Homo sapiens: one gene and its partners. The protein of the gene in region 1 interacts with the protein of each later gene in a biochemical or structural test. Each region holds a gene or a part of one and is shown in the gene's direction. Other genes may lie near its edges. The genes, in order: KBTBD8, NOLC1 and TCOF1.

Evidence for each region.
Region 2: the proteins of KBTBD8 (region 1) and NOLC1 form a complex in vitro, tested with the Homo sapiens proteins (2 studies listed by BioGRID).
Region 3: the proteins of KBTBD8 (region 1) and TCOF1 form a complex in vitro, tested with the Homo sapiens proteins (2 studies listed by BioGRID, with this or other methods).

What each region holds. Positions count from the first base shown.
Region 1 is NC_000003.12:66,994,273-67,001,355, forward strand, and holds the start of KBTBD8 (kelch repeat and BTB domain-containing protein 8), read left to right. Parts: upstream 1-4,034; 5' UTR 4,035-4,083; coding exon 4,084-4,099; intron 4,100-4,708; coding exon 4,709-4,919; intron 4,920-7,083. UniProt on the Homo sapiens protein: Substrate-specific adapter of a BCR (BTB-CUL3-RBX1) E3 ubiquitin ligase complex that acts as a regulator of neural crest specification.
Region 2 is NC_000010.11:102,147,403-102,155,458, forward strand, and holds the start of NOLC1 (nucleolar and coiled-body phosphoprotein 1), read left to right. Parts: upstream 1-4,986; 5' UTR 4,987-5,008; coding exon 5,009-5,128; intron 5,129-8,056. Other genes in the region: PPRC1 (peroxisome proliferator-activated receptor gamma coactivator-related protein 1), read left to right, coding at 970-1,119, 1,226-1,292, 1,415-1,536, 1,776-1,927, 2,524-2,627. UniProt on the Homo sapiens protein: Nucleolar protein that acts as a regulator of RNA polymerase I by connecting RNA polymerase I with enzymes responsible for ribosomal processing and modification.
Region 3 is NC_000005.10:150,353,011-150,360,743, forward strand, and holds the start of TCOF1 (treacle protein), read left to right. Parts: upstream 1-4,686; 5' UTR 4,687-4,736; coding exon 4,737-4,844; intron 4,845-7,733.

The sequences.
Region 1 (7,083 bases):
CAGTTGGCTTTGGAGCCAAAGACCCCTAAAAGACTACGGGCAGGTTATTGAAATTCTCAAGGCTTTGGTCACTTCATTGTAACTTTGTTCTTAGAAAATTTAATTAAAAGGTGAAATTAAGTGCAATAAAGTAGGTAACACAACCATTAATTCCTTTTCCTTGTTCTATTCCTAAATTAAGCCCTATCAATATTAAAGTGAATGCTTTACCTTCTGGGTCAAGCCAAGATAAAGCAATTAGGCAAGAAAGTACTCCACATCACTTTTGCAAATAGTTCTATGGTGTATCCTCTTTGGATGCTCAGCTTAAATCCCACACCAGCTGAACAGAATTTCTTATCTCTTTCGAAATCCTTAATATTAATTGTTGGAAATACTTATTTTATGCTAACTAGGGGTTGCCCTTAGTTCTCATTTTCTAGTTGATTTTCATGGGAATAAGTTTTATTTTCACAGATAAACCATAAGATCCTTGAGATTAGGAATCTCATATCTCTACATCCATCTAATCTTTATCTATCTATCTATCTATCTATCTATCTATCTATCTATCTATCTAGTTTTGTATAGGAAACATTGATTCAGACAGTGCCTTCTTAGAATGCAGGTTGTGGGAGGAGGCAATCAATATTTCTGAGGAACTGAATATTACTGCCACTAGCTTCAAAGTCTTTTTTTCATGTATATGCTAAATTCCAAATACTTAAAAATTAATGCACATTAATATCCTCCAGTATGATCAAATTCAGTGATTCATGAAATGCAATCTTCTAGTTATTACCATGTTGAATCCTCATATAACCTCAAAGGGAATAAAAAACTAAAAATACAACAAAGCCCAGTGGTGCCCAATCAGTAAACCTAATGTTAGTATCTATTTAGAGTTTTGTATTTAAAGAAACTAAATCATGGGCAATATATAAAGTTTTAGAAATTTTAAAAAACTTTGTGTATCTGATGTCATATTAAATTTATATTGAATAATCACTTTTGTTGTTTCATTTATCTAGCCAATGCAGAAGTTTTAAGCAAGAAAAAAAAGTCACATTGAAAATATCAAGAAGGTTGTAGCTGTAGGCTGAGAAGTATAAATATATAAGGATGTCAGTTGCTAAAAGGTATGAGTTTCAAGTATTCTGTCTTTACTTTCATTTTATATAGCTCTGGTCAATTTCACAGCCCCAACCAGTACTGAACAGGGAAATTGGAAAACTGCAGAATTGATTTGCAGAAGTGAAGTTCTATTTTCTTTTACACCTTCTTCATCAGAGTTGCTATCATTCTTGTGTTGTGTGGTATTATTGAGAGTAGCCTGGGTATAGCTGATAATTGCTAAAAGTCATTCTCTTGAAATGAAAGCAGAAAAAAACAAGGAGCCTTCAATTTCTCATTTTCCAAATTTGATGCTTTCATAATCCTTCATTTTTGCTAGAATTTAAACGTAAAAACTTTTCTTCTCTCAAGCAACCATGATTATAGCAATTCTCTTTGCTTGTGATTCCTAGGTAAAAAAAAATATTAAAATAATAAAGCTCTAAGTGTCTAATTTGAACTAAATATAGGACCTTCAAATATTCTGGTTCAGTTTTTCAGTTTCCATCCTTAATTGATTTTACTTTAAACTTTAAATATAGGAGTAAATTGCAATATAGTACTTAATACCTTAAGATGAAAACTGGTTTACTTTTGCTGCTCTTTCCAGATGTGCAGTAGATTCAGGAGGTTTTTACTAAAATTCAAATTAGAGGTGTTTGAAAACAAAGCTGTAACCTTTGGCTATTTAGTATCAATCCTGAAAAGGAATCTCCCCAGTATTCTTACAGATCATTGAGAAAGAATTGTTGTGGTACAACTGACTGAATTTCGAGATCCTCCTACATATTCTGTGTTTTTTAAAAATGCATTTTAGTGATGATTAAATCTTTACTATGTAATGCCATCTGCCCAGTAGAATGGAGTCCATTTACAGTGTCATATAAATGGCAACTTTTTACCTATAATTTTTTTTCTATTTATTTTTAGATTGGCTTTTGTTCTTTGTATTCTGCTGCATCTCCAATTTATAAATCTTTGTGGGTCAAAGAATCAGAACACTGTCTTCTCACTAATCAAACAATATTGTCAAGTCTGTTTGTTACTAAGTTGAGAATTGAATTTTTAAAAAATTGGCCAAGTTTCTTAAGGCTTAAATAGATAGATGGCTACAAAACAACAACAAAGCACAAACAAAACTCCTCTATTTTAACAGATTTGAAAAGGTTGCCAGATAAAATACAGAACACCCAATTAAATTTAAATTTCAGATAAACAACAAATGATATTTCAGTTTAAATATTTCTCAAATAATGCATGCCCTGTATTTTTATTTGCAATATCGTCAGATGTTGTCAAACCCTAAGGATTAACGCCATTTTTTTCCTCAATACTAACCATATTGTCATAAAGTGCTACCATTTTAATAAATTAGAAAGCAACATCATAAAAACGAAAAAATAAAGTTATGAGTAACCAAAATTAAGTCAATTTCATCTATCCAGAAACGTGCATACAGGACATTCACAAAGAAGAAATTATAAGTGCATATGTATATGCAGAAACCCCAGTCATGAGGAAACACCACTTCCTGTTAACTTGCATGGGATTATAGTATTTTAAGTTCTAAATTTCTCAGCAGACCTAGAAGACAGAACTGAATTGTTTTTCATAATTATTTCTCTTTCTCAATCACAATTTAAATTCCAAGATCCTTTCTTTATCAAGAAGTTCAACGGTTTGATCTTTTCAGTGCTAGAAAAGTTATGCACACGGGCTAACTATATGTCTACTAGAAATTCTTCCCATTCGCTGATACTTCCTTACATTTTAACATCTAGAAATAGCATTCCCAATGTTAGCTCATTTGCACCTTACATTTATTTTTAAAATATGAAACATCTATAATGTGCCAGGCACCCCGTTAGATGTTAGAAACACAAGATGAGTAAATAAAAATTCGTCAACAGTAAAATTTTGATTTTCTTTCCAAAAGGTTGCAGCCTATGAAATCCATGGAGTACGGATTACTATTACTTCACGTTACAGATGAAGGATCTAAGCGCTCAGGGGTTGAAAGGTCTTATGTCAGTTCTCACATATAGTGACTAAAGAGCCAGGGCTTCAGTAATCATCCCTGGCTCCGGGCTCAGGGCATTCCGGTATTTTTTCAAAGGAAATTCCGGAATACTTAGTATTGTATCCCCTCCATTTCCCAAGAGCAAAAAGTAAAGCATCTTGGATCCCCTTGTAATGTTCACGTGAGGAACAGGTGTTCTCTGGGTGTGCTAGAAAAGCAAGGCACCAGTGGGAGTTGAAGATCCTAAGCAGCCGCTGTAACCAGACCAAGTTAATCTGTGGAAACCAGAGCACCCGGCCAAGGCGATGCTATTTCAATTGGGTGTCATAGGTGACTCATCAGAGACGCCTTGCTTTTGGGCCTTGTGATATTTTTCTTCAGGGTGGGACGTCAGATTTCCTTTGCATTTTTGGACAACAGCCCTCCTGTCCATTTCCACATTTTTCTGGTTTTACAGCTCTCACGCAGAGCTTGATTTCATACCGGAAGCTAGTCACTGGCAGGAAGTTTACGGAAGAAGAAAAAGGTAAAAAAATGTGCCGGGGGCCAGGAGAGAGGCCTAAAATGGGGAAATTCGCACTTGAAGAGCTTTCCCTACCCCAGCCCCTCAGAATGACAGTTCTCCTCCGCCAGAAGACTACCTCTCCCGGCAGGCACTGCGCGCTCGACGGCCACAGGCTGGCCAGCTCCCTGCTCTCCACCTCCATCCGAATCAGCCAATAGGAATTCCCGGCTTGGGCCTCCGCCCGACCCGGACCACGCGGGAGCCGGGGCAATCAAACTACATTTCCCGACACGCATGTGCTCGCGTCGTGGCCAATCAGCGCCAGGAATTCGGAGGCTAGGGGTGGAGCCAGATGCACAGGACACCCCATTGGCCAGGGGAAGCTTAGAAGAGCCGGAACCCGGGAGCTAGAGAAGCGAAATGACATTTCCTTTTTAAATAGCTGGAGTCGGGGCCCCATCGAGAAATGGCCGCGTCGGCAGGTGGGTCGTGTGGTGGCCAGGGCGGCGTGGAGGGAGGTGAGGGGGAAGGTGGGCCGGGGCCGGCCACAGGCAGTGGGATGAGGACGTAGCGGTGCGGAGCTAGAGGGAAGGATGAAGCGGTGGAGGGGAATGAGAAGAGGGAGGATGAATGGTGCGGAGGGCGGTGGGCGGTCCGGCGGGACCGGGATGGGGAGGCTGGGTACCCGCCGGCGCTGCGCCCCAGGAGGCAGCGGGAGGCGGCTTGAGGGGGCACCGGCGGCCGCCGTTGTTCGAGCTTCCCTCGTGAGGCTCTGCCCTCGGCTCTCGGCGGAGTCCGCGCAGACGCCTCTCCTGGGCTGCGAGCGCGTTTCCTCCGCGAGCACGGGTGCCGGGCTCGCCGGGCTCCGCAGGAGCAGGCTGGCCTTTGAACTTGTTCCGCCGATCGCGCTCCGCCCTCTGTCTCCCAGATCCTTAACTCGCGGTCCCACGAGGTCGTGCGTATATCCACAGACATTTGTATATATCTTGTAGGGGGAAAAAGCCTAGCAAGCAGACACACAAACAGAAAAATCCCGCGATGCCGTAACTGGCTCGGCACTTCTTGTAGTTGTACGATTTTTCTCCTCCTAGATTTAAGTAAGTCTTCCCCAACACCGAATGGGATTCCATCTTCAGACCCAGCCAGCGATGCCATGGACCCCTTCCATGCTTGCAGTATTCTTAAGCAACTCAAAACAATGTACGATGAAGGACAGTTGACAGACATTGTAGTGGAAGTGGATCACGGGAAAACATTTTCCTGTCATAGAAACGTTCTTGCTGCAATCAGCCCTTACTTCAGGTATGATGATGGTAGGAACTTCTGTTGGTATCTGCACCAAGCTCCCTTTCCCCCTCAGTATTGTCCACTTGATGTTTATATTGAGATGCGATAATGAAATGAAACCAATGACTTTGTTTCTTGAGACTAGAAAACAAGTCCTCTCTTAACTAAGACCTTCTTTTGACTTGAGGGATTCTTCTAGATTTCGGGTGATTGCTTTTTAAGTTAGTGGGCCTGTGTGTGTGTGTTTGAGGTAAATGACCAGAAAATCTAGACTTGTGCTGGTCAGTATGGAAGCCAGTAGCCATGTGTGGCTGTTTAAACTTAAATTATAAGTTAAATAAAATAAAACATTTAGTTCCCCAGGTACACTAAATACTTTTTGAGTGCTTGCTGGTCACCTGCAGCTAGTGGCTGCCATATTGGGCAGCACAGAAATACAGCATTTTCATCATTGACAATTTTATTGGACAGTGCTGATCTAGAATTTCTTTCAAAAAGTTATCCATAATGCATGTTTCTTTAGTGTATGGGACTCTTTTATAAAATAGTTTAAAACATGTAGCATGTTCCTTCAAAAACAAATTACCACTCAATAGATTGTTTAAATGCTATGGGGGTCAAAGCAAGAATGAATATAGTTTCTTTGTGCCTAAGGCCCCAAATTAATAATATCCAAGATTTCTAGAAGTATGTTAAACGAAGTTTTTGTTTTTACTTATATTGTCTACTATAAAACTTTTAAAAGTAAAATTTAAAAACTTGGGTCTGAAAAATAACTTCCTACTTTAAGATGAGTGGAAAAGGCAGTTTTCTGCATGGGCTTAACTTCTTTTGTGTCAAATGCTCACTTTAAGCCTTTCAGTATTCACAAGTGGTGCATAAATAATAGTAAAGTTATCAACCACACTCTGAATGTGATTTTTCCTTTTGAAGGTGCTTACCTTTATAGGGCACATAACCATATAATGTTCCAACAGTAGTTTCTGGTTCCTCTTTCTCAGAATACTGGGTTAAATATAGTCACTTCAGTCTGATGCTTGTGATGTAACCGTTTAGACTTGCCTAGGGTAGGTCATTGGACTACTAAGTATTAATCATCGCAAGACAGTGAGCTGGAAAGAAAAAAAAACTCACATATGCAGAAGGTATGAAGTTTGGCCTGGTAATGGAAACTTCTAGTGAGATTCACTTACCCAGATTATCTATTAGATATGGTTAGGTCATTTGTATGTTTAAATATATGTCACAGTTACTACTTATCAAGCTCTAGGCTAAGCTTACTTTACATGTATTGCCTTATATAATCTTTATAATCCTATCTCTGCATAGTTGTTGTTCCATTTTACTTATGAAGAAGCTGAGGCTCAGTGAGATTGAGTTTTAATAACCTGCCTAAATCATCTATCCAACAAGTAAATGGCAGAGGCTACATTTGATTACAGAGCCAGGCTTCTTAGTAGCCATATGACTCTTAAGGAACAAGAGTTGGTACAGTTTCCTTTAAAACATTTTTATTGTATATTGCATTTGAATAGTAAAAACAAAAACAAAACAAAACAAAACAAAAACTGCAAAGTAAAAATGTCTATATCTTACTGAAATTTAATAATCTGGATTATATCATTTAAATGTCATACTTATGTATGCTTACTAAGTATACTTATTAAGTATAATACTTAGTAAGCATACATAATAAATATGATATATGTATACATATTAAGTATACTTATTAAGTATAATACTTAGTAAGTATACTTATTAGTAACTTTACATAAGTATGACATTTTCACCTTGCAGTTTCATTTTTTATTTTTGAAGACCTGGAAAAAAATTTTACTTTAAAAGAAGTATGCTATGATAGATTTCTAATTTTCTTGATTCCTTAAAATCTTAAATTCTTTAATTTTGTTAAGTCAATTTTTAAAAGGAGTAAAAAATACTTGAGAAATTTTCTGGGGATACGATATGTGCATTGAAATAAAGATATTTGGCTAGAAACCTCAAGGATTAGAATTTGATCTCTTGCTAGAGGTTTTTGTACTGAAGTTTCTTGGTACCAGCGCTGCTTCCTGTGTGGGATGTAGAAAATCGTACTTAATGTTTCTACGTCTTGCATCACTAGTGGAAGAATTAGAACGGCTGGAAATCTGGAATGGCTGTTTCATGATACCAGTAACTC
Region 2 (8,056 bases), on another chromosome or scaffold:
ATGGCCCTGTAGGTCCTCTCCATTTAGGAAGTTCACGTACTTCTGTGGTTTACTTTGAAAGCTTTTACCCGTTGACTTTGGTACTTTCAGGCGCTAAGGCTTCTATTTCTGACTTTGGCTTTTGTGTTTTCCCTTTTCCTGGATTGTTGAAGGAGGCAAGCTGTGAGACAATTGCTTCTGTCCCCTGTTGGAGCTTGGGGTGTCAGGTCTCCTGCTTCTTTGAGACCTGCCTTGGGGAGACTTTTAGGGTTTGATTTTGACCATGTTGATTTTTTTCACATACTGTATCAGCCTTCATTTTTGGTATTCTGGGCGCTATGTGAGGTAGTGGGTTACTTGTTAATAGAAAATAGTTCTTCCCTTAATCATCTGCTGAGGAAGGTGTCTGGGGCAGTTCCTTTGGGTGTCACTATGGCCTCATCTATTTCCTGGCAGTATCTTTTTTTCTCAGTAACCAAGTTTTCCCACTTAATGAAGAATTCTTGGGTTTTGGAGATGATATATGTCTTCAGAACTGGCCCATACTACAAGTCTAGCAGTTAACCTCTCTCATGGTCACAGTATTTCAGTGAGACCTGGTAGGGGAGCAATAGTAACCCAAAAGACCCAGGCTTGGCCCCAGCACCACAGATAGCTGGGTGTGAGACCTAGGGCTCACCCCTCTCCCTGAGTCTCCATTTATTGTTCTTCCTCTTTCTGATTTGTTAAATATTTTTCAATTTTTAAGTGCACAATTGAAAATGTGATCTCTTCCAAAACACTTCACAACATTCCAGGTACACCTAAAGTTCCATGAAGGGCCTCAGTTTGTTCATCTCTGAATGAAAATTGTTCTTCTAGACCTCTTCTACTCTGCTTTGTCTTTGGTCCTGAGCTTCCTAAAAGAAAGGCAGGACTGGGGCCTGGGTGAGATAAGCAGAGTATACCTGAACCACTCCCAGCATTCCTGCATGCCCTCTTATCCTTCAGGTCCAGCTGTAGTTCCTCTGGACGTTCTCGAAGATGCTCTTCCTCTTCTTCGTCATCATCTTCCTCTTCGTCTTCCTCATCCTCATCATCCAGTTCTCGAAGCCGCTCACGATCCCCATCCCCCCGCCGGAGAAGTGACAGGAGGCGGCGGTGAGCATGTGTTCAGGGAGCGCCATGCACCTGGGATGCAGGTGCCTAAGAGTTGAGTCTTGAATTGTCTTATGTTTGGGGGGCTGATGACACCCTCTTTTGTCAGGTACAGCTCTTATCGTTCACATGACCATTACCAAAGGCAAAGAGTGCTACAAAAGGAGCGTGCAATAGTGAGTAGAGGAACAGATCATGGGAGGATGGGGCTTACCCCCTGAGCCTTGAGCTCAGAGAGCTGCCTGCAGCTGTAGCCCTGGCTAATGGTGTGTTGATTTTTTTTCATTTCCAAACATAGGAAGAAAGAAGGGTGGTCTTCATTGGAAAGATACCTGGCCGCATGACTCGATCAGAGCTGAAACAGAGGTTCTCCGTTTTTGGAGAGATTGAGGAGTGCACCATCCACTTCCGTGTCCAAGGGTAAGCTTGGGCCCCAGGCTCAGGATGTTCTTTCTATCCCATTCATCTACCTTGGTGTTTCTTTGTCTTGCCTCCTTGCTCTGGTGTGCTGAGCAATATGGGGCACCTTCATTTCTGCAGTCAGAGGGTTGGCCACTGGGAATGAGAAGAACCACCTCTGTACCTTGGGATGCTGTGTCTCCTCTATGGCATGGGCCCATATAGCCACTCCAGCCCCTGCCTCACTCTCCTCCTACTAGGGACAACTACGGCTTCGTCACTTATCGCTATGCTGAGGAGGCATTTGCAGCCATTGAGAGTGGCCACAAGCTGCGGCAGGCAGATGAGCAGCCCTTTGATCTCTGCTTTGGGGGCCGAAGGCAGTTCTGCAAGAGGAGCTATTCTGATCTTGGTGAGTGGAGGGAGGGCCTAAAGCTTTGGAATGCTTCATCCCCTCCCCAGAAGGGTTCCTAACCCTTTGTGAGTGGGGCTAGGCAGACTTACCTTAGTTTGACATACAAAGAACCCAAGGGGGCTGGGCATGGTGGCTCACGCCTGTAATCCCAGCACTTTGGGAGGCTGAGGCAGGCAAATCACGAGGTCAGGAGTTCGAGACCAGCCTGGCCAACATGATGAAACCCCATCTCTACCAAAAATAGAAAAAATTAGCTAGAGGTGGTGGCACGCACCTGTAATCCCAGCTACTCGGGAAGCTGAGGCAGGAGAATTGCTTGAACCCAGGAGGCGGAGGTTGCAGTGAGCTGACATCACAACACTGCACTCCAGCCTGGGCTACAGAACGAGACTGTCTCAAAAAAAAAAAAAAAAAAGACCCAAGGGGTGGGACGAGAGGAGAAATGGGGACTGGGGACTCTCCTATCTCTTTGACTTAAAATTAGAGCAGTTTTCACTCCATCCGTTTTTGGGATGGGAGATAGCTAGCCATTTGCAGACCCTGTGGTTGGGAAGTGTGGTCAGAGACCTTGAAGTTTGTCTTTACCTTTATAGACTCCAACCGGGAAGACTTTGACCCAGCACCTGTAAAGAGCAAATTTGATTCTCTTGACTTTGACACATTGTTGAAACAGGCCCAGAAGAACCTCAGGAGGTAACCTTGGGCCCTTCCCTGCTATCCTTTTTCTCCTTTGGAGGTGCCCAACCTCCTCCACCCCCTTCCCCTACTCTAGGGGAGAGAGCTGCTAGTGAGATGACTGTTTTATAAAGAAATGGAAAAAAGTGAAATAAAAAATATGTTGAATCAGATTTTTTAAAAGGGGTATTTGTTTTTTTATAACAGGTATTGAAACAAGTTAACTTGCATTCCTATGTAAGATAGGAGGGGCTGAGGGGATCCCCAGTGTTTGGAACATAAGTCACTATGCAGACTAATAAACATCAACTAGAGAGAACTCCCAACTGCTGTTGTGCGTCTTTATATGGTGCTAATGCCAAATGTATTCACTTTTCCTATCTGAACATGGTCCAGGGACATGCCTCTCCCTGGTCAGGTGCAAAAATCCCACTGGATTTGAACCTTGGTTCCTCAGATGTATTGTCTAAAATGAGTCATTTAGGACAGTGCTTCTCAACTTTAAAGGGAATTTGAATCATCTAGCGATCTTTTTAGAATGTAGATTCTGACAATGGGATGATGATACTGGTCCAGGAAGGGATTTTGATAACAAGGACCTAGAGAAGCTCACACTTGTTCCAAAGAAAGGTTTTCTAAACTGCGACAGGTGTATACATTCATCATGTCAGTTATGTTCATCATTTTATAATAGCTTGAGCACACTGCATGGCACAGCAGGTGCTCAAATGTTTTAAATAATGCATGCATGTGGGTAGAACAGGAAGCGTGGGGAAGAGGGAACTGTGGAGTTTTTTGTTTCTGTTTTTGAATTTTTTTGTTTTGTTTTGGAGATGGAGTCTTGTTCTGTCTCCCAGGCTGGAGTGCAGTGGCACGATTTTGGCTTACTGCAACCTCTGCCTCCCGGGTTCAAGTGATTCTCCTGCCTCAGCTTCCTGAGTAGCTGGGATTACAGGCACCCGCCACCATGCCTGGCTAATTTTTTTTGTATTTTTAGTAGAGACAGGGTTTCACCATGTTGGCCAGGGCTGTTCTTGAACTCCTGACCTCAGGTGATCCACCCACCTTAGCCTCCCAAAGTGCTGAGATTACAGGCATGAACCACCGTGCCCAGCTTTGTTTTTGATTTTTGAGATAGGATCTCACTCTGTGGCCCAGGCTGGATTGCAGTGGCAGGATCATAGCTCATTGCAGCTTTGACCTCCCTGGCTCAGTTGATCCTCCTGCCCCAGCCTCCCAAGTAGCTGGGACCACAGGTGCATGCCACTACACCTGGCTAATTTTAAAAATTTTTTGTAGAGATAGGGGGGTTTCACTGTGTTGTCCAGGCTGGCCTCTTAACTCCTGGGCTCAAGGGATCCTCCCACCTAGGCCTTCCAAAGTGTTGAGATAACAGTTGTGAGCCACTATGCCTGGCCAATTTTATATAGGAGAGGGGGGTGTGTTCCCATGAGGATCCTTATCTTTCCTGAGCGGCATTAGTGGGAGGTAGCCAAGGGGTAGTGGGTAGGATTGAAGGGATTGCTAACTGCTAATATCTGGAATGTGGCAGAACTTGGAATTAACTTGGTAGGTCTGAGCATTGATACTGGAGTTACTCATGACAAAGGCATTGATACTGGAGTTACTCATGACAAAGGCAGAGTGTGAACTCTGATCCCGGAGGAAGAAGGGTTATTTTCAACAATCTCTTCAGCTTGAATAGATTGTTGCTGTGTGTGATTCAGGTTTGGTGCATGACACCTTTCCTCTTCATGGAGCTGACCTAAGGCGGAATATAAGGGAGATGGGAGGGGCAGCTTGGGAAATCAACACCTCCCACCCTCACGACGGATAACCCGAAGGATCTTCTGCAGCAGAGGCAGGAGTCTGGAGGCTGGGATGGTATCAGAAAGGGCCTCCCTGGGTATTGGAGGCAGTGAAGATGAAGGGCGAGAATCCATTGGCCGTGCCAGTACGCCATGGGGGCGGTTGGGAGATCTTGTAGAACAACTGTTCGAGCCCGCTTGTCCACTCATTACTCTGGAATCCGAGTCCCAGCAGGGGCGCGGGAAACCGCTGCTCTGAGAAAAGGTACCTCCCCCAGAAAGACTGCGCGGGAAGTCCCGAGTTTTCCCGCCACGCCGAGGGCGTGATCCCTGACGTCAGAGCTCCGCCTCCACAAGCTGGCGGCCGGTGGGCTCCGCCCTTAACCAAGATGGCGATACGCGTGGGACCGGAAAGAGTTTATAGATTTCCCGTCTACCCTACCTCTGAGGTGAAGGTGGGACTGCCCTGTGGAGCCCACCCTTTCCGTTATGCGCCCGCGCGGCGCAATGACGTAACACAGGCCCGCCCACTGCCCCTGTTGGGTTCCTGAGTCGTGCTGCGTCGACAACGGTAGTGACGCGTATTGCCTGGAGGATGGCGGACGCCGGCATTCGCCGCGTGGTTCCCAGCGACCTGTATCCCCTCGTGCTCGGCTTCCTGCGCGATAACCAACTCTCAGAGGTGGCCAATAAGTTCGCCAAAGCGACAGGAGCTGTGAGTTCCGGGCTTGGGGCGGGGACCGGGCTGAGATGACCACAAGGCTTCAGGCCCTGACGTGCTTAGGTTTCCAGGTGGGGAAGTCTGGGGGTCCGCCAGTCCAGTGTCTGCAAGGCCTTTACGCCGACCCCTCGGCAGTGACCAGAGAAAGCCTGCGGCCTCGGTCGCTTACCTTCCTCCATGTCTGAGTAGATATCGCTGAGTCTTGTTGCTTTTTTCTTGTGACCTGTGCAGCGGCGGCAGCGTGGGAGCCTCGTGGCCCCAAGCCACATGGCTGGCAGAGTGCAGCGGGGAGGTAGAGTCTTGTTCCACTGAGGACGTTGGTTCTTCGGCATCTTCTGGGGGGCTTTTCGTTGGGTGAGGCAAACCGTGATTTGACCTTAGCCTCAGTCACATTTACTGGGATTCAAAAGCAAGTGAAATTTCTTTAGAATGAAGTCTGGGATTTTCGTTTGTAAAGAAGAAAATGAATGAAAGTAGAAGCAGAGTTTTGTTTTGAGTTACACTGAGAATTGAGAGTCATCAACAGCCCTACCAAGTAGGCATAGTAGTGGGCTTGGAGCTTTGGCTAATTGAATCAAACAAACCTAGGTTTGGGACCAGGCTCTGCCACTTTTTAGATACGTGACCCGGGCAGTTTATTTAACCTTTCTGAGTCTTTCTACAGGGATGTCATCATCCACTTTATAGGATTTTTGTGAGTTTCAGTAAGATGATGTGTAAGAGTAGCAATCTCAGTGCTGGTACAGAGGAATCTTGTAAAAGTGAAAGCTGTACCATAGTTATGGCAATTTAGGATGCTCCAAACACATGTAAGAGTAAGAGAACCAGGAATGTGAAAGGTTTGTAATCTACATCAACGGACATTCCTGCATGGGAAGACACTTTGAGAGAGGAGAGAGGGGGGGTCTTCAGCAGGGATGATAGCATGACTAGGAAGGATGGCTTGCACTTTTAGCAGAATCAGGCTGCGAAAGCAAAGAATCAGATCAGCCTCAAAACTTCCTTAAGCTGGGACAGGCTGCCATGTGATCTAACTGCTTTCTTAATGAAACTGTTTAGAGTTGACTGTTAAGGAGACTGCGGAGAGTGCTTTCACAGTGGACTGGATGGAATTGGACATTTCAGAATTAGGATTCTTTTTTTTTTTTTTTTTTTTTTGAGACGGAGTCTCTGTTGCCCAGGCTGGAGTGCAATGGTGCGATCTCGGCTCATTGTAACCTCCGCCTCCCAAGTTCAAGTGATTATCCTGCCTCAGCCTCCCCAGTAGCTGGGATTACAGGCGCGTACCACCACGCCCGGCTAATTTTTGTATTTTTAGTAGAGATGAGGTTTCACCATGTTGGCCAGGCTGGTCTTGAACTCCTGACCTCAAGAAATCCACTTGCCTCAGCCTCTCAAAGTGCTGGGATTACAGGCGCGAGCCACCGTGCCCGGCCTCAGGATTAGGATTCTGAAATGGTTTTATGTGAGAAAAGCTAATCTTTGTGAAGAGCTAACTAAGGGTCAGATGCTACGCCCTTCACATGCATTTAATTTTTTTTTTTTTTTTTTTTGAGGCGGAGTCTGGCTCTGTCGCCCAGGCTGGAGTGCAGTGGCACGATCTCAGCTCACTGCAACCTCTGCCTCTCAGGCTAAAGTGATTCTCCTGCCTCAGCTTCCCAAGTAGCTGGGACTACAGGTGTGCCCCACCATGCCTGGCTAATTTTTTTTTTTTTTTTTTGTATTTTTAGTAGAGACGGGGTTTCACCATGTTGGCCAGGCTGCTCTTGAACTCCTGACCTCAAGAATCTACTGCCTCGGCTTCCCAAAGTGCTGGGATTACAGGTGTGAGCCACCGCACCCGGCCAACATGCATTATGTCTTATCCTCTCAATAACTTAATGAGATGTGTAGTATTATCTCCATTTTATAGAAAAGAAAATAATCTCAGGGAGATAAGGTAATTTGTCCAAAGGTGAGTTCCCATCTGTACTGACTCTGATCATTTACTCTTTTTTGGACCACAGAGTCTCACTGTTGCCCAGGCGGGAGTGCAGTGGTGCAATCTCAGCTCACTGCAACCTTTGCCTCCCAGGTTGAAGCGATTCTTGTGCCTCAGCCTCATGCCTCAGCCTCCCAAATAGCTGGGATTACAGGCGCCCGCCTCCACGCCCAGCTTATGTTTGTATCTTTAGTAGAGATGGGGTTTCACCATACCAGCCAGGCTGGTCTCAAATTCCTGATCAGGTGATCCACCCACCTCAGCCTCCCAAAGTGTTGGGATTACAGGCCCGTGAGCCACTGCACCTGGCCTGATCCTGTACTCTTCTGTGTATTGTTTTGTGTTTGTTTGTTTCTTTTAGAGGGTCTCACTCTGTCGCCCAGGCTGGAGTAAAGTGATGCAATCATACTTCGCTGTAGCATCGAACTCCTGGGCTCAGGCAATCCTCCTGCCTCAGTCACTGGGGTAGCTAGGACTACAGACATGTACCACCACACCTGGCTAATTTTTTTTTTTTTTTTTTTGTGACAGTTTCGCTCTTGTTGCCCAGGCTGGAGTGCAATGGTGCAATCTCGGCTCACCACAACCTCCACCTCCTGGGTTCAAGCGATTCTCCTGCCTTAGCCTCCTGAGTAGCTGGGATTATTACAGGCATGCGCCACCACGCCCAGCTAATTTTGTATTTTTAGTAGAGACGGGGTTTCTCCATGTTGGTCAGGCTGGTCTCGAACTCCCGATCTCAGATGATCCACCCGCCTCAGCCTCACAAAGTGTTGGGATTACAGGCGTTTAGCCACCACAGGCCAAGCAACCGCAGTGCCATTGCAATCCAACCTGGGCGACCAAGAGCGAAATTCCATTTCAAAAAAAAAAAAAGAGAGAGAGAGAGAGATGGAGGTCTCACTGTCTTGCCCAGGCTGGTCTTGAACTCCTGTCCTTAA
Region 3 (7,733 bases), on another chromosome or scaffold:
GGGAGCATCTGGCTTCTACCACTAACAAAGGCATTTTCTCTTACTGGTAGAGAAATGCTCTGAGGCTAATTTTTTTTTTAATGCACTGTTTTGTTTGTTGCTGTCTTAATAGTTGCCATGTTATATTTTATCAGTTTAATGTTCTAATTTTGTGCTTGGGCCCTGAGGCAATTCAGTGAAGGGTATGATTTGGAAAATGAGGGAAATAAAGAAATTGTCCACAGAAGAGACAGCCTCCCAGGAGCCGAGGACAAAGCATAAGTGCCGACAATGAATTTTATTAGGAGCAAAACAAAAACAACCTGTTGCCAGACAGAAGGTATTAGACAATCCTGGTGTGGTTTTGTTTTCGTTCTTTAATTTAATTCCAGTTCTGCATTTCTTCCAGGGTCAGCCAAGGATGCACAATCCAGTTCCTTCCCCACTGCCTTCCAAAGCCTTCCACATTCCTGCCTCCAGGCCTAAACTCAGTGAGCACCTTGCCTGCCCTGCCCTCCCTTCTTCTTCAGGAGAGGTCTGTAACCATTCCTGCACTTGCCAATACTTATTAAGTGCCTGCTGTATGCAGGCACTGTGCAAAATGTTGGAAATAATGCAACCAACAAGGCAAAGGTAAGTCTGCCTTCAGGGAGTTTACATTCTACTAAGGCATGCATTCTCAAATGGGGCCTTGATGCCCTCGAGGAAATGAAAACTGGTTCCTGGAGGTGTTGGTGGAAAAAAATCTTAGATCTTACAATGGTTTGTATGCTCATCATGTACATTCATCACCCATCCAGCCACCCAAGCAGAAACCTGGGTGTCACCACCAGTTCCAGCTCCCAGCCCTCTCTGATCTCAGGGGTCCCTCATAAGGCCTGGCCCGTGAAGGATTCCACTCTCTCCCTGCAAACATCCATCTGCCTTGCTTCCCTCGCTACCCAGTGTAGATCCCAGGACCCAGAATTTTAGCATCTCTTTGCCAATACTTTAGACTCCTGTGCCCTTTTTTCCCCACCCATCTGGCAAAGCCCTAGGCCTGGATAAATCCCACTATGTACATACATCTCCCCAGCCTGCAGCTGGGTAGGTGAGCCCTGATGGAGGAATTCACTCAGCAGGACAGGACGAGACACACATACACTAAGGACCACCAACCTCAACTGGGGAGCCAAGGCTGTCAGGCAATTGGGGATTTTGTGGGCAAGTTGCTTCTCAACACTCTGAATGATCATTCTTTCAAACTCCTCACCACCTCTTCTTCACTCTCAGCAGAAGACCTTGCCTCCCACTTTGCAGAAAAAATAGAAGCTCAAAATGAAATCTCCCTTAACATCCCACTATAAACCTACATCTACATCTGCACCCATCCTCTCTTTGTTCCTGCTTTTGGGTTCTAGAGAACTCATCCCTCCTCCTCCCCAAGACGAACCCCCCCAACCCACATGCCTGATCCCAGCCCCTCGCACATGCTTGAGAGAACTTTACTCGCTGATTATCTCCCCTATTTCTTACACTCTTGGTTAACCTCTCTCTCCTGGATCTGCCATTCACTTTTAAACAAATCTCAGGTTTCTTCTACCTTGAAACACACCTCCCCTAACATACATATTGGCCCTAGCACTTTATCTTTCTCGTCCTTTTTATACAAAAACTTCTCGAAAGACCCACTGCCTCCCTCATCCCTCCTGCACTCATCAGACCACTGCCATCTGACCCCCTCCATCATGCCACACATAAATAGCCCTCCCTAAGTCCCCAACAATCTCCACGCCTGTCCATAAACCAAAGCCCAGGGCTGCACCCTCCTCCTATCTGACCTCTCAGAGCATTCCCTCCATCAAGTCTTCCCAGCTTTCTAAAATGTCTCCCTTGGCCTCCTTCCATAAGCCCACTCTCCTGGGCTTTCTCCAAGCTGTCCAGCCACTCCTGATCAGCCTTTGCAGGCAGATCCTTTTGTACACAGCCCTAATCTGTAGATGTACCTCAAAACTTCATCCTGGGCCATCTCTCTTCTCTCTCCACATTCTTCTCCCTGGGTAAGCTTCTCCTCATCCACAGCCGCAATTATCATCTGTCTATCGACAACTTCTCATCTTCATCTCTAGCCCAGACCTCCACGCCACGTCCAAACCCAGGTTTCCAAGAACCTTCTCAACATCTGCATGTGGTGACTGTAAGGCATTTCAAGCTCAAGATGTCTAACATAGAATATATACTTTCACCTCTCTGTCCACATCCTCCTCTCCTCAATCAAACCACCCCCCTGTCTCAGTCCTCTTCTAGTTTTTTCTATCTCAGTGAAAAATACTGCCTACTTGTTTGCACAGAAACCTCAAGGTCCATTCTGACATTGCCTTTTCCTTCCCCTCCCATTCCAACACACCTCTGTGAAAACTTTAGTTCCTGATTAACTCTGGGAACCTTCCACTCTCTTCAACTCCACTGCCACCAGCACCCTCCCCGCTGCCCCCGCCACCTACCACCCGCCCCCCCCCCCCACATACACTGTCTTCTCCCTGGATGCCTGCCTGCACTCCTAACCCTGACTTGTCTTCCCACATCTACTCATACCCACCAGACACACTCCACTCTCCACTGGGCAGGCACACAGGTCACAGTAAAATTCAGATTTCATCCTGTACCTCTTGGGCTTACACCGTCAGTGGCTTCCAATGGCTCTTAGGATGGAGGAAAAAAAACCCTGATGTGGCCAATCCTTCACATGGAGTCTGCCCTCTGCCCACCTTCTACACTCCCCAGTCCCCCTGCTCTCCCTCCGGACTATGCTACAAAGGCCTTTTTGTGTCTATTCTCTCAGCTGTACCTTCTGCCCTAGGCCCTTTGCACAGGTTCTTCCCTCTGCTCAGGTTTCTTCTCTCTGACTCTCCCTTACACACAGTTCTGGTTTCCTCATAACCATTAATTTCTCAGGGAATCCTTCCCTAACTCCCAAGAAAAAAATAGATCCCTCCTTCCTGTTATATGCTTTCACAATAATAGCACACACGCACACAGAGAGCGCTATTGTTCAGAGCTCCTCTAAGCATTTCTGCTGAGAATTCATTTACTCCTTATGACAACCCAGTGAGGTAGAAATTATAATTATCTCCATTGTACAGATAAAGAAACTGAGTCACAGTGACTTGCCCAAAGTCACCTAGTTAATGAGGCAAAGCCAGAATTTGAACCCAGGCAGTGTGACTCCAGTGCAGCTTTTAAACACTATATTATTACATAAGAAAACACTATCCTTTTCCTTCCTGCACTTACCCGCTGTTTGTAACACTGTATTGTATGACTATTAGTTTAGTATGTGTCTCCTCCGTTAGACTGTAAGCTCTATTGGAGTAGAGACAATTCCATCACTAGACTGTAAGCTCTATAGGAGTAGAGACTATTCCATCCCCAATGGTAGGTACTCAATAAATATTTGCTCAAGAAAATGGGAAATGTTGAATGTGTACAGACACATAACATTTTCCATTCAAGTTCAAGACAAAGATAACCACATACCTGGACCTCCTAGGGTTAGGGACTCCTGCGCCCGTAAGAAACATGCTGCCCTCAGATTCTCAATGGGTCGGTGAAGTTAAGAACAGCTCACTCTAACATTCTCCAGCCTACCTCACCTTTTCCCTGCCATCCTTCCCTCAACAACTACAACAGCCTCACATTTAGTATTAATGGTATGTGCTTTGGTTTTAGCAATCTTTTAAAAACACAAAACAGGGTCAACCTCCTCGGAAAAGCCAGTCAGAGACTATCTAATGCCCTCAGAGCAAAGTCCAAACTCTGTTGGGGGTGGGGGAGTTGTAGGCCTTGTCTACTTCTTCATCCTCATGTGCCCTCATTTGTTCCCTCTTCCCCACCTCACCCCACCCCACCTGGACAGCCCAGCAGCGCAGACTAGGGGTTCTGGGTTTAGGGTTCCCAGGCAATAGCAGGGTGTTTTCTCATGCCTAGACTCATGCAGTGCCCTCTGCCAGTCCTCTCCTTTGCACCCAGCAATTTCGGGTGTCTTTATGCCTCAGCTTAGATATCTCTCTGGGGTTCGGTGCTCCTCCTTGGGGCGCCCATAGGCTGCATCTGTCCCTGACAAGGCACACAAGATATTGAACTATAGTTGCTTGGTTACGGACAGTCGTCTCTGTGAGCTTTGAGGGCAACTGCCATGTATTATGCATCTTTTGAATCCCCCTAGCCTAGCCGGGTGCTAGCCCAAGTTAGGTGCTTATTACAGATTTGTTCAGTTAGCGAATGAATCAATGAATAAACTGGCAATTCGTGTCTGGTTCATGGGCACCAAAAACCGTGCGAAATGGATAAATGAGCAGGTAATGGCAGTACAAAGTTCGGATCTAGAGAAAGATCCAGATTAGGGAGTTCAGAGATGAGTAAAACGCAGACCCAGCCATCAGAGAATTAACAAGGAAGATAAATCTCTTCAAGAAGCCAGCCGGAAGGATTAAAAGAGAGTCGTCCAAGTCCCGGCCGGCCCCGGGGGCGGGTCCCTGTCTAGCCCCGCATGCTCCGCGCCAATGGGCGGTATTGTTGATCACGAGTCTCCGCCCCCTTCGCCTTGAGGGGCGGGGCCGGCCACTCCCGGAGAGGGGACTACGTTTCCCGGCGCGCCGCGCGGCCGGAGCGAAAGAGGAGCCGGAAGTGTGGCGCGCGAGGTCTAAGGGCGCGAGGGAAGTGGCGGGCGGGGACTAAGGCGGGGCGTGCAGGTAGCCGGCCGGCCGGGGGTCGCGGGTATGGCCGAGGCCAGGAAGCGGCGGGAGCTACTTCCCCTGATCTACCACCATCTGCTGCGGGCTGGCTATGTGCGTGCGGCGCGGGAAGTGAAGGAGCAGAGCGGCCAGGTAAGCGTTCGTGGGCCGTGTGCGAGGGCCGCGTGCAAGATGTGGAGATCAGCGGCCCGCGGCCCGCGCCCCGTCCCCAGGCGACCCGGCAGGCGCCCGGAGCCGGGTCCCGCAGTGCTCGACGGCGCGGCCAGGGGTACCGGAGGAGCCGCAATCTCTGCCTTCCCACTGCGACTTCAGTTCCCCTGGGCCTCACTTTCCTCATCCGGGCAGTGGGTTGGGCCAGAAAGTGTGCTCGCAGGGGCCGAACTTTGTAATTCCCGCTTCCCTTACCTCCACGCCCTTCCTGGTAGCGGGTATTTTAAGTTTCCTAAGTCTCCCGCCACGTGGCTAGGCTCTGCGCGGCCCCCCCTGGGGCAAGGAGGTTGCTGCGAGTCTCGGGGGTGGATTGCGACCAGCCCCTCGGGGGAGCGCCTGGAAAAGGGACCCTACAGCCTCTTAGTTGAGCTGGAACTCAGGCCTTTAGCGATTGTCTGTACTGAGACGGTCAGCTTTGGTACTCGAACTCGTGGTACAGTCATTTCTTACTTGATTAATTCAACTGTTAATCCGGTACTCAGGGTGCTTCCTGGTGTTCGAATGGTGAGCACCATCTCTCAGCCCTCCTGGAGCTTACACTCTAGTAAGGTAGACAAATCAAAGAATCACAAAAGTGACTATATGCTTAGCACCGCAATAAGTGTTAAGAATGAGAGGGATGGGCCGGGCACGGTAGCTCACGCCTGTAATCCCAGCACTTAGGGAGGCCGAGACTAGCGGATCACCTGAGGTCAGAAGTTCGAGACCAGCCTGGCCAACATGGTGAAACACCGTTTCTACTAAAAATACAAAAATTAGCTGGGCATGTTGGCGCACGCCTGTAATCCTGGCTACTCATGTGGCTGAGGCACAAGAATTGCTTGAACCCGGGAGGCAGAGGTTGCAATGAGTCAAGATCGTGCCACTGCACTCCAGCCTGGGCGATAAAGCGAGACTCTGCCTCAAAAAAAAAAGAGAGATGGATGGCAGATTGCCCTGGTCAGGAATAGCTGAGGTGTAAATGCCTTGTGGTGGGAGGGAACTTGTGTACACACTGGCCTGGAGAAAGTCCACTCTCTTGAGCCCAGGAATTTGAGGATACAGTATGAGCCATGATCATGCCACTGCACTCCAGCCTGGGCAACAGAGCAAGACACTGTCTCAAAAAAAAATTTTTTTTAAGTCCATAGCAGGCCAGGTACGGTAGCTCACGCCTGTAATCCCAGCACTTTGGGAGGCCGAGGCAGGCGGATCACTTGAGGCCAGGAGTTCAAAACCAGCCTGACCGACATGGTGAAACCCTGTCTCTACTAAAAATGCAAAAATTAGCCATGCATGGTGGCATGCACCTGTAGTCCCAGTTACTCGGGAGGCTGAGTCAGGAGAATCACTTGAACCCAGGAGGCAGAGGTTGCACTGAGCTGAGACTGAGCCACTGCACTCCATCCTGGGTGACAAGGCGAGACTCCATCTCAAAAAAAAAAAAAACGTCCATAGTGGCTGAAGTGTGAAGTACAAGGGCCAGATGCCCCTGGGGAGATGGAGGCAGGGGCTGGCTGGAGTGGTCTGGTGGGCAGTTTGATCTTCCTTGGAAGAGCAGTGGTAAACCAATGGAGAGTTTTGAACTGGTGAGACAGTATCCTAAGTAGTCAGATCCCTTTGCCCTGTGGTGTAGGCTCTGCTCCTAATGCTTGCTCTCAGAACCTCCTGGAGGGACTAAAGGGTGATGGGCCCTAAGACGTTATGTATGCTTTTCCCAGTTTCTCTGAACCTCACTTGCTCTTCCTACCGCAGCTATGGTACTTCACAGATAAGGGGAGCAAGAGATAGTACCCATCTTCATTGGAGCAAAATATCCTGCCGTCATGGAGCACACATTCTAGTAGGAGCAGACAGGTGACAAATAGAAAAAGTTTAATAAGTTAATGATATAGTATATCCAATGATAGTTGGTGCTTGCTATAAAAGGCAGGCAAGGGGGATAAGGGATGTCAGACTTCGATTATAAGTAGGGTAGTCAAGGAAGTCTCATTGAGAAGGTGTCATTTGGGCAGAGACCTGAAGGAAATGAGGGAGTGAGCTGTGTAGTTAACAGGGGAGAGAACATTCCAGACAAGAAGAATAGCAAGGCCGCGTTAGAGGCAGGGTGGCCTGACACATTTGAGGACAGCAAGGAGGACACTTTGCCTGAGGTGGAGCAGAGGGAAACTGACTCTTGAAATCTTAGTGTTACCGGCTCACTGCTGGGCACTGACAGATGGTCTTGTTCAAACCAGATAGCAGCCTGCAAGGTAGGTATCGCTGTTGTCCCCATGTTAAGAAGAAATCTGAAGTTCGAAGACGTGACGAGATTAGTTCAGTCCACCCGTGCCCCACATTGCTTAGCCTCATTAGAGTACTTGATATCCTGGCTTATTGACATTTACAGAGACATTGGGCCCTCTGGCCTCTGCTCCAAAGGCCTGGATTCCACCTGGTTCCCTCTGCTTCCACCAAGGGACTGGTACCATTTGGGCCCAGTCTTCTCCCAGCAGACTAGTAGACTGTGGTCATGCCACCTGGATGCCTCAGGTGTCTGGGCTGTGATTCGTGCTTTGGGAAGATTGGCTGGCCACGTCTTTGAAAGCTTTTTTAAAGGTCAAAGGTGGGGAAAACCCTGTCTCATGGCCTCTAGGCATGGATAGTGCCAGAGAGGCTGGGAGCTGGATGAATGCTAGCTTGGAACATTCCACCTCTGGCCTTTCAAAGGGGTTGTCTAAAAAGGTTTTAGTTGGGATTGGTTGTTCTTCTTGTCTCTGGAAGGTTTGGGACAGAACTGGCAGGGCCAAGCAGACATACTTCCCAGAGCAAAAAGACCCTCTTTTTTTTTTT